Linked DNA regions of Homo sapiens. The protein of the gene in region 1 interacts with the protein of each later gene in a biochemical or structural test. Each region holds a gene or a part of one and is shown in the gene's direction. Other genes may lie near its edges. The genes, in order: CAPRIN2 and LRP5.

What was found.
Region 2: the proteins of CAPRIN2 (region 1) and LRP5 form a complex in vitro, tested with the Homo sapiens proteins (one study listed by BioGRID).

Annotation. Positions count from the first base shown.
Region 1 is NC_000012.12:30,723,848-30,731,122, reverse strand, and holds part of CAPRIN2 (caprin-2), read left to right. Parts: intron 1-840; coding exon 841-884; intron 885-1,797; coding exon 1,798-2,475; intron 2,476-5,034; coding exon 5,035-5,157; intron 5,158-6,671; coding exon 6,672-6,753; intron 6,754-7,275. UniProt on the Homo sapiens protein: Promotes phosphorylation of the Wnt coreceptor LRP6, leading to increased activity of the canonical Wnt signaling pathway.
Region 2 is NC_000011.10:68,441,565-68,448,839, forward strand, and holds part of LRP5 (low-density lipoprotein receptor-related protein 5 isoform 1 precursor), read left to right. Parts: intron 1-4,008; coding exon of another isoform or gene 4,009-4,138; intron 4,139-4,871; coding exon 4,872-4,969; intron 4,970-5,362; coding exon of another isoform or gene 5,363-5,420; exon of another isoform or gene 5,421-5,593; intron 5,594-7,244; coding exon 7,245-7,275. UniProt on the Homo sapiens protein: Acts as a coreceptor with members of the frizzled family of seven-transmembrane spanning receptors to transduce signal by Wnt proteins.

The DNA of each region.
Region 1 (7,275 bases):
TCCCAAAAGAATACATTGGTTAAAAGGAGCCATTTATGGAATTTGAATAAACTTCTCTGTTAAACTACTAGTAGGATAATTCTGTTTAAAATTGTTTACAGTGGAAGTTAGAGTAGAAACCAGTACTGTAGTGGAATGAGGATGTAATTAACCTAAGGTCGAAATACTGATTCAGGGGAAAAAAGTGCTAAAGTCAGTAAAGAAAATATACTTTTAAAATTATCATTTGCCTGGGGAAGAAATACTTTGAGCAAGTGGCACTTCTGCTTTTGTTTACCAAAGTTGGATTTATTAAAGAAATACCTCTTCTCAGGAGGTAGTCCAGGCAGGGTTCTGGTAGCCATAAGCAAGAGCGAAACCATTTTCCATGTTTATTTCCCCTTAGTTCTTAATACTAAGTGCAGTGCTTAAGTATCTCCACTCTCTTATCCCCTCCTAACCTTAAACTGGCTTGTAAGAGGTTTTTAAGGGCTCTATTTCAAGCTGAGATGACCAATTTTTACCCCATGGGACATGAGCTATAATGCTAACTTGAAAAAAAGCTGTGTTTTAGGGTAAGAAGAAATAGTGTTATTTTCAATCAGATATCAGTTTTAAACTGAAACTTGACTTTCGTAAAGTGTCTTACATAAGGAGAGCTACTAGTTTGAACTAGCCTCAGACCACATGCTTTGGACTAACAAGGAATATAATTCCTCTTGCCATCAATATACTTGATTATATTACCCTTTTTCTGTTACGAGTCTTCTGAAATATGTTGCTAGAATGAATTATAGTTGTAATCTGTCTAAAAACTTACAGTTCACCTAGTATTTATTCAGATTCTTTTTATCATCCCAGAGTCTCTAATGGAATTTGCCCAGCCAGAGATACAACCACAAGAGGTAAGATACTGAAAGACAATTTGCTGATGTTGATTTTTCAGCCTTTTGCATAGGGTTATGGTTGGAAGCTAAGGCTCTGGAGCCAGACTGCCTGAGCTTGAACCCTGGTTCTGCAGTTTACTAGCTTAGGGACTTTGGGCAAGAAATCTGGTCCAGCTGTGTCTGTTATCCTCATATGTAAAATAGGGATAACGTTAATGACTACTTCATGGGGTTATTGTGAGGATTAAAGAGGTTGATCTAAATTCTAAATTACTTAGAATTTGGTCTGGCACACGAACTGCCCAAATGATAGCTATTTTTGGCTCCTGTGTTAGAGGAACTTTAAGATGCGCAGGACTTTGCTCTCTCCAGAATTTACTCACATTGGTAGCAGAAAAGGGTATTTGTTCTCTTTCTGAAGTGACATTGAAATTCATGGGAAGCTGAAAAGAATGGGAGATTCAAAAACAGTGTCATTGATGTATAAGGGAAATAAAGAAAACACTGGTAACTTAGGAAATGTCACGTTTAAGGTTACATAATTTAACTTTGAAGTTGAACTATCTTCTGCCTTTTAATGTTTGAGGGAGTCAACTGGGGAGAATGGTCCTAAGGCTGGCAAAGGCGGAACAGCCTTGGTAGAAGAATCCGAATCAAGCAATTCTTGCCAGTCTTAGGCAAGTCCAACAGAAGTTGCTACTTTTGATGTATCGAAGTCTGTATTTCTGTTAATTGAGGAAAAAGGAATGGACAGAAAAGTAGGAAAGTAGGAAAGAGAAGTAGGAAAGTCTTTTCAAGTAGAATAAGGACAGAAATTTAATATTAGTGCAACAACTTAGATCAGAGGACATAGCAATACTAATAGAGTTGAATATTCCCTCCAAGGTCTTCTATGAATTTTGTGACTTAAGTGCATTGTTTCTCTATCTAGTTTCTTAACAGACGCTATATGACAGAAGTAGATTATTCAAACAAACAAGGCGAAGAGCAACCTTGGGAAGCAGATTATGCTAGAAAACCAAATCTCCCAAAACGTTGGGATATGCTTACTGAACCAGATGGTCAAGAGAAGAAACAGGAGTCCTTTAAGTCCTGGGAGGCTTCTGGTAAGCACCAGGAGGTATCCAAGCCTGCAGTTTCCTTAGAACAGAGGAAACAAGACACCTCAAAACTCAGGTCTACTCTGCCGGAAGAGCAGAAGAAGCAGGAGATCTCCAAATCCAAGCCATCTCCTAGCCAGTGGAAGCAAGATACACCTAAATCCAAAGCAGGGTATGTTCAAGAGGAACAAAAGAAACAGGAGACACCAAAGCTGTGGCCAGTTCAGCTGCAGAAAGAACAAGATCCAAAGAAGCAAACTCCAAAGTCTTGGACACCTTCCATGCAGAGCGAACAGAACACCACCAAGTCATGGACCACTCCCATGTGTGAAGAACAGGATTCAAAACAGCCAGAGACTCCAAAATCCTGGGAAAACAATGTTGAGAGTCAAAAACACTCTTTAACATCACAGTCACAGATTTCTCCAAAGTCCTGGGGAGTAGCTACAGCAAGCCTCATACCAAATGACCAGCTGCTGCCCAGGAAGTTGAACACAGAACCCAAAGATGTGAGTTGATCTGTATCATTCTGCTTCTGTAAGTGTAGGCATAAATAAGGTGTCGTGGTAATGACTTTTTAGTTCTCTTTTTTTTTTTTTTTTGAGATGGAGAAACACTCTGTTACCCAGGCTGGAGTGCAGTGGCACTATCTCTGCTCACTGTAACCTCCGCCTCCTGGATTCAAGCGATTCTCTTGCCTCAGCCTCCTGAGTAGCTGGGACTACAGGCGCATGCCACCACACCTGGCTAATTTTTTTGTATTTTTAGTAGAGACGGGGTTTCACTGTGTTAGCCAGGATGGCCTGGATCTCCTGATCTCGTGATCCAACCGCCTCGGCCTCCCAAAGTGCTGAGATTACAGGCGTGAGCCATTGTGCCCGGCCTTAGTTCTCTTCAAAGCCCATGTGAAGTTAATGTATAAAATATTTCACCCTCTTTAGTGGGTAGATTTATTGTTTTCCCTTGAAAACTGGGAGTTAATCTAGTCTGTCTTTAAGTCTAATCTGAGATGAAATTTCTGCAATTATAAAATGTTGTTTTAATGCCAAATTTTAACAATATAACATGATATGAAAATAGTAGATAGTTTAGATAAGACCATAATGACATAATGTGAACAAGTGAGTAATGCAAATGCTTGTCACAGGATGGGAGATACTGTATTTCATTTGTTGTCATTTACCTGCTATACGAATAACTTTTTCTGACAAGTTATATTTTTCTATATTCTCTTGCTTCTCTTCTACTCATTTATGGTCACTCAGTTTAGCCCAGGTCTTTATGAAGAAGGTTTATGGTGGTTGCAGATATTTCAGTATTGGGGGAAGGATTTGAATTAGTTCTCTATTTCCATTTCAAAATGAGAATTTTTCCAAAGATAGGAAAACTGTTGGCATTAAATATTTTGTAGTTAGGTTTTGGAGAACAAGATTCAGTTAAAACATAAGGCCACATTCTTTTAAGGATAAATAACCTGTTTCAGGTAGATAACACTTACATTGAATAATTCTTGGGTACAGTGCTATGTTAGGGTTGCCTTTTATTAAATTGTAAATTACTTATTTACTACTATTTATAATGCAAACTTGTTACCACCTCATTTGCTGAGATATGTGAACTTGTGCTTCCAGTGTTCTCTATCTCTATGGAGTAGTCTTCCTTGCACATCTGTGCCATTTTAGCTAAAGGCTTTCTGATAAACCATTGGACCTCTAATATAATAATATGAAAAACATTTTGCTTGGGGAAAGCAAAGCATTGCATTTTATAAGTAAATTACCTTTGGCTTAATTCTGTATGGGAACAAAATTTTAGAGTTATTTGGCTATTTTGCTCTCCTTTCTCTCTCAAGTTGCTAATATTAATTTTAGCTTCTTCCTGACCCTACAGAAGATTGTCAGCTTTATTTTATTAACCAAATATCACACAACAGTAACTGTAATGTAACTATTTTGAAAAACATTTAAAAACCCAATTTAATATCTCAAAGCTGCTTTTAAAAACCTGACTTAAAATTCCAGTAGGTGTAGCAATGCAGAACCTTTATCATACCAGAATATTATCATGCTATTTGATGAATTGCATTTAAAATCAGTGTTACATATTTGGAAAGGTCAAAACATATTTAATTTGCTTTTGTGGGACAGATAGCGTTATATTGAAGTTGTAGGGTTTTTCAGTTACTGAGAGGAGAGGATACTTCTATGTGTAATATAGTATTTTTCTGTCTTTCTTGGAATCTGAGCTGTCTAGAATATTGACTAAGTACAGTCAAGTGCAGAATAGAGTTCAAAGCCAAAAGACTAGATAACATGAAATTAATCACTGATGTTCATACCTTCCTCCTAAAAGAGTCCCATATGTACTCACTTATGGTCTCTTAACTCTTATTTTATCTGGTACCTTTGACAAACTTAGCTGTGTGTCTTCTTTGATTAGAAGGTGGAGAAGAGGAGCTAGTGGAGACTGGCATGTTGACAGCTATAAAAAGTAACTGTAAATTGGTCTAATTCAGAATGTGCATCAATTTTAAGCAATTTAGGATGGATATCAGTAGCCCCCAAGAGTGTACTTACTTTATAACAAAATATATGTATCCCTCTCAATTTTAGGGTATGTGTATGTATGTACTTATATATGTATTTACATTTTGATTTCTGAAATCAGATACATCTTAAAACTGGGATGTACATTTAATGTGGTAGTAGTAATTTTTGCCCTGGAAAAAAAAATCATTGGTATGTCTTATTGTCAGTGGCATCTTATCCTAGAGGACATATGGTAACTCATGTCCATAATGAAAACACTCTTAACAAGGAAGTTCTGCTGGATCTTCCCTTTAAAAGGAATATTTTGTGTTTTAGAAAGAGTTCCATGAAAATTGTGAAGGGGAAAAATCTGTTTAAAGTTTGCTTATTTAGAAAAGGTATTTATGAGAAAATTCTTTACCTGTGATAAGTGAACATTGCTGTTTTTTCTTTTCCTTTAAGATGTAGTGATAAACTGTTTCCTAGATTAGGCTCTTGAATTTGCATTTCACTCTTACACATTATGGGTTTATCTTGTAGGTGCCTAAGCCTGTGCATCAGCCTGTAGGTTCTTCCTCTACCCTTCCGAAGGATCCAGTATTGAGGAAAGAAAAACTGCAGGATCTGATGACTCAGATTCAAGGAACTTGTAACTTTATGCAAGTATGAGTCATTTACAAAATCTTAAATGATATTCATGGGGCTTCTGACTGGAAACATTACAGTGAAATTATTAAGAGCATAGATTATTCTGTCAAGTCCTGGCTCTGCTGCCTCCTAGCTCTCCTAGCCTGGAGTTTAGGCAAATTACTTGATTCTGCCTCAGTTTATTTATTTGAAAAATGAGGATTATTGTTCCTACTTTCTAAGTTTGTTAGAACAAAAAAAAATGAATTAAGCATGTGAAAAGCTTAACTTGCTCAAGGATCATTACTGCTATAGATTATCAGTACTGAGAACTGTGAGAACCTACTCTGTGCCTGATATTGTTAGATACCATTGTAGTACAGATACAGAAAATGAGACATTCATTGCCTTCAAGGAATTTATATTCCAGTTGTAGAAGATTGTAAATTTATGTTAAATCAATAGTTAAATGATAAATTGTGTTATACAATATGTTTAAGTTGTGAGATACAGACACAGAATTTGAGAATGGTATGAGATTACTGAGGGCTAAAGTAGTCAAATAAGTATTTTTGTTTAGTAAAAGATCCTGAGCTTTGAATATGGGCCTGGGTTTAAATTCTGTTACTTACCAGCTGTTTATTTAACCTCCAACACTTATTTGCAAAATGTAGGAATTGCCTATACCATCAGATTAGTTGAAGATGTAAGAACTAAAATGCTCCCTGCAAATGTGTAGCTTAAGTATGCAAAATACTGGAAACTTTTCTGAGAGAACCGAGATAGGCAGATACAAGAGCGTGATTTCTCATCTTGAAAATGTTTTAACAGCATGAGCTAGTAAATGGTTGAGATAAATAGATGCTCTTTGGTTGGGTGTAATAAAAATGGGGGTTCTGATTAGACTAGGATTGATGGCTATGTTTAGGACCTTAGTAAGGTCAAGAGTTTCTTTTCTGACTTAGGCCTTAGATTTAGTATTGTAGGCTTTTGTTTTGTTTTGTTTAAAGACAGGGTCCCACTCTGCTTGTCGAGGCTAGGGTGCAGTGGTGTGGTCAAAGCTCACTGCAGCCTCGAATTCCTGGGCTCAAGCGATCCTCTTGTTTTAGCCTCCTGAGCATCTGGGACTACAGGCACATACCACCATGCCTAGCTAATTCTTCAAAAAATTTTTAGTAGCAACAAGGTCTCGCTTTTTTTCCATGCCGGTCTCGAACTCCTGAGCTCAAGCGATCCTTCTACCTCAGCCTCCCAGAGTGCTGGGGTTACAGGTGTGAGCCACTGCGCACGGCCTACTCTTGTGGTTTTAGCACTCTACACAGCCTTAAGTTATGGCAGTTACTTTAGATTTTATTTTTAATTCTTAATTTCTTTATCTATGGAGACTAGTTTTGGCATCCTGAGACAGTGATTAGCTAGATACCTATAGCTTTAGCTAGATATTTATGTGTAGCTAATAGACTATAGGCAGCATCATGAATAATTCAATGGTAATAGCTTTTAAATGAGTAATCTCTGTTTCCACTCTTTATTTAAAATCATATCTTTAGGAGTCTGTTCTTGACTTTGACAAACCTTCAAGTGCAATTCCAACGTCACAACCGCCTTCAGCTACTCCAGGTAGCCCCGTAGGTATGTAATCATTCTAAAGACTTGGAGCAAACGTCTTGAGCTAACAGCTATTTGTTGTTGTTGTCTTTTCAAATGATTTTATTTTAGATGTCCTAATATGTTGGTGTATTAATTTATTCTAACTGTATCCATCTGTTACCAGTTATATGTGGGTAAATTACCATTAGGACATTAGTGTACTTAACTGACTTGTTTTCATTTTTTGGAGAAAGGCTCTGGATGGGTGAATGGAAATACTCAATAGCTGTTTTTGTAATTTATGTTGTTGGTGGAGTGAATTCTGACTAGAAGTTGCTTGACTCCTTTGGACTCTAAATCTAGTGTTGAGGCTTTTGGGTCTTAACTACGGGTGTGATTACCACAATGAAGTGTAGAACAGTGATTAACACAGTAACTAACAAAAGAGCCTGCATTCAAATCTGGTCTGATGCTTCAAAGCTTGGGCTTTTTGCTCCACATTTGTTTCTCTCCAGAGAGGAGTGACATAAAGCTAGTCCAGCTTTAGTGAGCAGTATATACCAG
Region 2 (7,275 bases), on another chromosome or scaffold:
CTGCTCCTGCTGCTGCAACCCAGCTTAACCAGCCAGGAGTGCTAGGAACCCAAGCAGGGCCCCCGAGCACACAGCAGGCAGCTCACGAATTCTCTTTTCCTGTTCTCCCTTGGGAGCTGGGAGGATCTTAATCAGGCAATAAGAGATGGCACTGAGCAGCCAGCTAATTTTTTAAATCACTTTATTGTTTAACCATATGACTCACCCACTTAAAAAAGGGTACAGTTCAGTGGGTTTTAGTGTATTCACAGATGTGTGCAACCCTCACCACAGTTAATTTTAGAACATTTTCCTGCCCCTAAAAGAAACTCTGCATGAAGCCAGCTGTTTTTAAATTAGCAAAGTTATTTTGCATCCTTTAAATATATGTTCATGGTACAAAATTCAAAAGATACAGAAGAGTCTGCAGTCCAAAGAGACTCCGCCCCCATGACGCCAAGCAGGACTCCCTGGGAGGCATGGCCTCCTGCAGTGTGTTTCTTCTATGTCCCCCCAGGGGTCATCTGTACATATGCAAGCATACAAGAGCGTGGACTTTGTTTTCCAAGCCAGAAGATAATTGTAGATTTATGTGCAGTTGTGAGAAAGAGCACAGACCCATTTATCCTCTGCCTGGTTTCCCCCAGTGCTGCCTGCCATCTTGCATGACTTCCATTCCTATCATAAGCAAGACACTGATAACGATTCTTTCACCTTATTCAGATTGACATAAGTGTTTTTTGTTTGTTCTTGAGACAAACTTCCTCTGTCACCCAGTGGGAGTGCAGTGGCACAATCACAGCTCACTGCAGCCTCAAACTCCTGGGCTCAAGCGATTCTCCTGCCTCAGTCCCCTCAAGTAGCTCAGATGGCAGGTGTGCACCATCATGCCAGGCTAATTTTTAAATTTTTTGTGGAGGTGAGGCCTCACTAAATTTCCTGGGCTAGTCTTGAACTCCTGAGCTAAAGTGATCCTCCTGCCTCAGCCTCCCAAAGTGGTAGGATTACAGGCATGAGCCACTGCGCCTGGGCTGACATATGTGTTTTCGTAAGCCCGAAAGATAGCATCTGAAGAGTCAACATTGAGCCTTGCCTTTTGCTGCTAACGATGTATAAAAGCTGCTGTTCTGAGCATTTCGGAGGCTCCCAGCTGCCGTGTGCACCCTGCCTAGAGCTCTACCGTAACCCATCTCCGGGAGGAGGTGCTATTGTTTTCCTCATTTTGCAACAAGGAGGCTGAAGAACTGAGCATGAACCACTGGCCTGGGTCGTTCGGTTGGTAGGCAGTGGGGCCAGGCCATCCAACTCACAACCACCTTCTACTCTGCTTCCCCCGCACCCTGAAGTTTGTTCTGTTTTGAGGACACAGCCGTCACATTCTTGGTGGCTGAACAGCACTCCTTGTCAGGCGTGGCTGGGCCCCCACTGGAGGGCATCATGGTCCTCTCTCCTGCTGCGGTTGAACCTTGGCTGTTTCAACCACTCCTGCCAAGTGGCCCTCTGAAAGGGACAGTCCATCTTTTCTCAGCAGAGGGCCACACTGGCAAAACGGTCCCTGGCACCCTTTCTCTCCACCTGTCTAATATAGAGTAAAAATGGTATCATGTTAAGATCTTCATTTATATTTATTTTATCATGAATGATGTAAGCATCATTTTGTGTGTTTAAGAACCTTTGGGCCCAGCGTGATGGCTTGCAGCTGTAATCTCAGCACTTTAGGAGGCTGAGATGAGCGGATCACTTGAGGCCGGGAGTTTGAGACCAGCCTGGCCAACATGGAGAAACCCCGTCTCTAGTAAAAATTTAAAAATTAGCCGGGTATGGTGATCCCAGCTACTTGGGAGTCTGAAGCATGAGAATTGCTTGAACATGGGAGGCGGAGGTTGCAGTGAGCCGAGATCGCGCCATTGCACTCCAGCCTGGGCGACAGAGCGAGACTCTGTCTCAAAAAAAAAAAAAAAAAAGAAAAGAAAAGAAATTATCAATCTCCTCTTTTATGGCATATATATATATATATATATATATATATATATATATATATATTTTTTTTTTTTTTGGTTATGTTCAGAAAGGCCTTCCCTGCTCTGATCATAAAAAACAACTTATTTTCACACTCTCTCTCTTTTTTTTTTGAGACAGAGTTTTGCTCCTGTTGCCCAGGCTGGAGTGCAGTGGCGCAATCTCAGCTCACTGTAACCTCCGCCTCCCGGGTTGGAGTGATTCTCCTGCCTTACCTTCCCGAGTAGCTGGGATTATAGGCATGCACCACCATGCCTGGCTAATTTTGTACTTTTAGTAGAGACGGGGGTTTCTCCATGTTGGTCAGGCTGGTCTCGAACTCGCGACCTCAGGTGATCCACCCACCTCGGCCTCCCAAAGTGCTGGGATTACAGACGTGAGCCACCATGCCCAGCCCACACTCTCTTTCTTAACGTCCTCCTCCTTTCGTTTTACGTTCACATCTTTAATTCTTCTGGGATGTAATTAGATTTGATGAGCAAGGTGGGCATCCAGCTTGTTTCTTGGCTGATGGCTTATGGGTGGCGTGAATTAGTCGGGGTCTATCAGGAGGCAGAAACTCTATGAGAATTTGAACAGAGAAAGTTCCGTCTACAGGCTTATTACCAGGGACTGGAATAGCAGAAATTGAACAGTGAGATGTACAGAGAACTCTAAGAATGCAGGAATAGGCCAGGCATGGTGGCTCACACCTGTCATCCCAGCACTTTGGGAGACCAAGGCGGGTGGATCACCTGAGGTCAGGAGTTCGAGACCAGCCTGGCCAACATAGTGAAACCCCATCTCTACTAAAAATACAAAAAAATTAGCTGGGTGTGGTGGCGCATGCCTGTAATCCCAGCTTCTCGGGAGTCTGAGGCTGGAGAATCACTTGAACCTGGGAGGCAGAGGTTGTAGTGAGCCGAGATCATGCCATTGTACTCCAGCCTGGGCAACAAGAGCGAGACTCAGTCAAAACAACAACAACGCAGGAATAGCAGATGAGCCGAGTGGCCTCCCCAGCCCCCACCCCCCACCCCCCACCCTGGGCCGAGATCCAGTCCTCTTTGAATAGGGCCTGGCCGTGGTTCACGGGACATCTGAGACATTGCCGAGGCGCTGCACTGGTGGATCTTGCCAGAAGTCTGCCCAGTGCAGATTTGGGCAGAATCTCAAACTGCCTTGGGATGTAGGAGAGAAACCAGGCCTGGTCAAGTTCATGGGAAGAGGTGGAAACAGACCCCATAGGCTGGGGCTTGGGCAGCTGTAGGAAGCCCTCTCTGCTGCCTCCCTGCCTGCTCTCTGCTTTGAAGCATCTTCCCCAGTGCCCCCAGTCTCATGCCCTCTCAACGTTGGGGTCAAATCCTGAGGAATACCCAGACTGGCTCTCTGGGCCAAAGAGGACCCTCTCCAGAAAGAGCAGGGCCCAGTGCGGCTTCCTAAAGGGCAGGGGAAGGGCCTGGCCACTCCCCAGAGGCTACTCACCAGCCATCAGGATAGCCCCAGGAAGCAGGCCTTCTCGAGCCCATTTTATTACTTTATTTTATTATTTTATTTAATTTTAAATTTATTTTTTGAGACAGAGTCTCACTCTGTTGCCCAGGCTGGAGTGCAGTGGTGCGATCTCAACCCACTGCAGCCTCTGCCTCCAGGGTTCAAGGGATTCTCCCACCTCAGCCTCCCAAGTAGCTGGGATTACAGGTGCCCGCCACCACACCCGGCTAATTTTCATATTTTTAGTAGAGATGAGGTTTCACCATGTTGGCCAGGCTGGTCTCGAACTCCTGACCTCAAGTGATCCGCCCGCCTCGGCCTCCCAAAGTGCTAGGTCAAGCCCATTTTAAAGTTGAAGAAACTGAGGCTGAGGTAAATTCCCTCCCCAGGGATCCTGCTGCAGCCAGAAGGTGGTAAAACAGGACTTCACCCGGGTCTGTCTGGCGTGAAAGGCAGTGTTCTTGTACCACCCTAGGGGGCCTGAGAGAACTGAGTCCCTCGGGCATAACTGACAGTTCTGTTCCCATTATTCCGCAGGGGCTCGGATCTGGCTGTATGCTTTCCAGGATGGCCTTGGAGACCCACATAAGCCCTACACCCTTTGGGAAGCTGCATGTTGGGTTGGGGTGCCGTCAGTGGCACTTGTGGAAGGTGCAGACCTGTGTGGGTGTGTGGGCCCAGGGCCCCTGGTCCCTTCCTCCCTTTGTAGGGCTGGTTGTGTGCTGCCTGGACCTGGGGGGCACGTTCACGTGGTGAATTTGTCTATTTACTATCCCCGCTTTGGGGCTGGTGCCAGCACAGGCCCTTGTGAAGGGGGTGCCTTTGTCTGGAGTGGGACTGTGGCCCCTCCCTCAGCGTGGTGACTTCTGTGTCAGGGCTTCAGCAGGGACGCAGAGCCCCTGAGTGTTCGGAACAAGGGCGTCATTGCAGGAGTTAGACTGTGTGTGATGGAGGGAGGAGGGGCAGGAGGAAAGGTCAGAAGGAGAGTTCCTGGGAAGGTCCCTGAGGAGCCTGGTGAGGTGCTAACTGGTGTGGAGGACACTCAGGGCCTGTGGGGACATCTCCTACTGCTGGGGGCCAGCCACAAAGGGAACTGGCCGAAGTCCTGTCCCCGCCTTCACAGCCCAGCATCTGGTCACAAGGCAGGTACTTGGAAGGGCGCGGGCACCTGGGCCAAAAGTGCCTGGGTTCCCTTTGCCTTTCACTGAGATGACCTTCGGGGCAGGTGGCTGCTGCCTCCCCTCCTGTCCCCAGGTTTTGCCAACTGGCCAGAGGAAGGGGTCCTGGGAAGCAGGGGGGCCAGAAGCCCTCTCTGCAAGGAAAGCCCGAGGGGTGTGGGAGGAAGGAAGGAATGCCCAGGCTGGCGAGGCTCTAAGTCACCCTGGCTTGGCTCTCCTCAGATCCTGAACCCGCCGCCCTCCCCGGCCACGGACCCCTCCCTGTACAACATGGACATGTTCTACTCTTCAAACATTCCGGCCACTGCGAGACCGTACAGGTAGGACATCCCCTGCAGCCCTCCATGGCCATTGGGTTCCCGCCAGCCCGTGGTGGAGGGGCCTAATCCCCATGCCACTGATGAGGGGAGGTATTCTGGGTGCTAGTGGGCAGGTGCCGGGCCCAGCCCTGCCTCCCTCTGCTCTGCCAACCACACTAGGCTGCCTCCCCAGACAAGCTCAGCGGGCACTGCATGTTGGGTTCAGAAATCAGCAGAACTCCACGTTCTGAGCTGCTCTTCAAGTTGCTCCTATGGGGGTTACTTTTAAGCTGGGAAATGGCTGTGGCGTCGAGGGGCCGGGGGCTTGGGCTCCAGAGTCTGACTGTGTGTTTGAGTCCGGCTGTGGAAACCTAGCCATTGAGATGCCCCCTCTTGGTGGCTCTGTCCTCTTAGGATGGGACAAGTCTGTGAAGGCTGCTGCAGCACCCACCGTAGACCCCTAATCGTGTGACGTCACCAGGATGGTCCGGGCTGCTCACTTGCCACAGTGGCCTGTTTGAGCCCGGGAAGCCAACGGGGCTGCTCAGCTGGACACCAGCCCCCCGAGCTGCCCATGTTGGGGTCACAGGCCCCACCTCCCTGGTTGGGGAGGGGCAACTGAGAGTGTGGAGAGGTGGGACCCAGGTGTGCTGGTCTCCGCAGGGGCTGGATCAGAGCCTGGGATGGGCAGGGTGAGCCTCCTGACCTTTAACCCAGTGGTGTCAGGCAACGTGGCCCACCCGCCAGCCGCACCAGGCCCCACCCCCGCAGGTGAAGGGGTGGGATAGGCTGGGCCTGGGCCAGGACACCTCTGGACCACGCATTCCTCATTGCTTGGGTCCCTGGAGCAGCAGGGCCTCCCGAGTGTGGTGCCGCCTGCCACCTAGTGGCCATTTCCACGAACTCCCAGGCCTGGCTGGGGAGCCGGAACTGCAGCCTCCATTTCCACCCCACTCCGGGTCGGGCCACCTCCCTGATGCCTCAGTATTATATCAAACTGTCACAGTCTGTCCCACAGCCTTACAGACCACTGTCTCCAGAATGGTCACATCCACACTGGGCAGCCCAGTCTCGCTAGTTCCTCGTCCCACCTCCTGCCTTTGCTCATGCCCGTCCTGCTCTGGGCCCACCGCGGACACATCTTCCCCCCGCCCGCCGTCTGACCTCACAGCAGCTGGGCCCCAAGAGGAGTATCCTGTCCTGCTGCACTTTTCTCAACACCCGGTGTTGGCTGCACCTTCCCACCCATTGCAGGCCCCTCTGTGACAGGACGGGGGCTCCTAAACACACCACAGTTCCGAGTCTGAACTCACACAGTGGGATGCGGCGTTTCTGGGCCACAGTTGGGTGCAGGTAGCCTCTGGGAGGATGGGAGGTCAGGAGCCATCTTGCGAGTCAGGTTGCTTGAACTCAGGATGGAAGTGTTCCGGGCCCATTGGTTGCTGTATTAGCCTGTTCTCACGCTGCTAATAAAGACATACCCAAGACTGGGTAATTGTAAAGGAAAGAGGTTTAACGGACTCACAGTTCCACCTGCCTGGGGTGGCCTCACAATCATGGTAGAAGACAAGGAGGAGCAAGTCACATCTTACATGGCTTCAGGGAACAGACAGCATGAGAACCAAGCGAAAGGGGTTTCCCCTTGTAAAACCATCAAGTCTAGTGAGATTTATTCACTACCACGAGAACAGTATGGGGGGAACCACCCCCATGATTCAATCATCTCCCACTGGGTCCCTCCCACAGCACGTGGGAATTATGGGAGTACAATTCAAGATGAGATTTGGGTGGGGACACAGCCAAACCCTATCGGTTGCCAACATTTACAGTAACAGTGTTAGGTGAACAGTTGTCCAGTCTCCTGTTTTGTCGGACACTGTTTCTAGCACCTTCCAGGCAGAATCTCATGTATCCTTCACTTTCGAAATGGGTACTATTTCATCCCCACTTTTATCAATGAGAAACTAAAGCTCGAAGAGGTCAAGTAAGTTCCTGGCCAAGGTCAGCTAGCAGGCTCTAGAGGCCTCGTTCTCCTTAGAGGCAGCCTTGCCAGGGCCCAGGCTTGGCAGGCTGCAGGGCAGGTGCGGGCATGCCCATGGTAGAGGTGGGACCATTGAGGCTCAGAGAGGGTAAGTGATGAGCCCTGGCGACACAGCGGGGTGGGTCCAGAGTCCGGCCTGCATCTTCTGGAGCTGGCCAGTGGACAGGCCTTTCCCGTTCACAGCCCCGGGGCTGCTGTGCCCACCAGGGCGGATGTGCCTACCGAATCCCACTCCTCTGTGTGTGTCCCTTTCAGGCCCTACATCATTCGAGGAATGGCGCCCCCG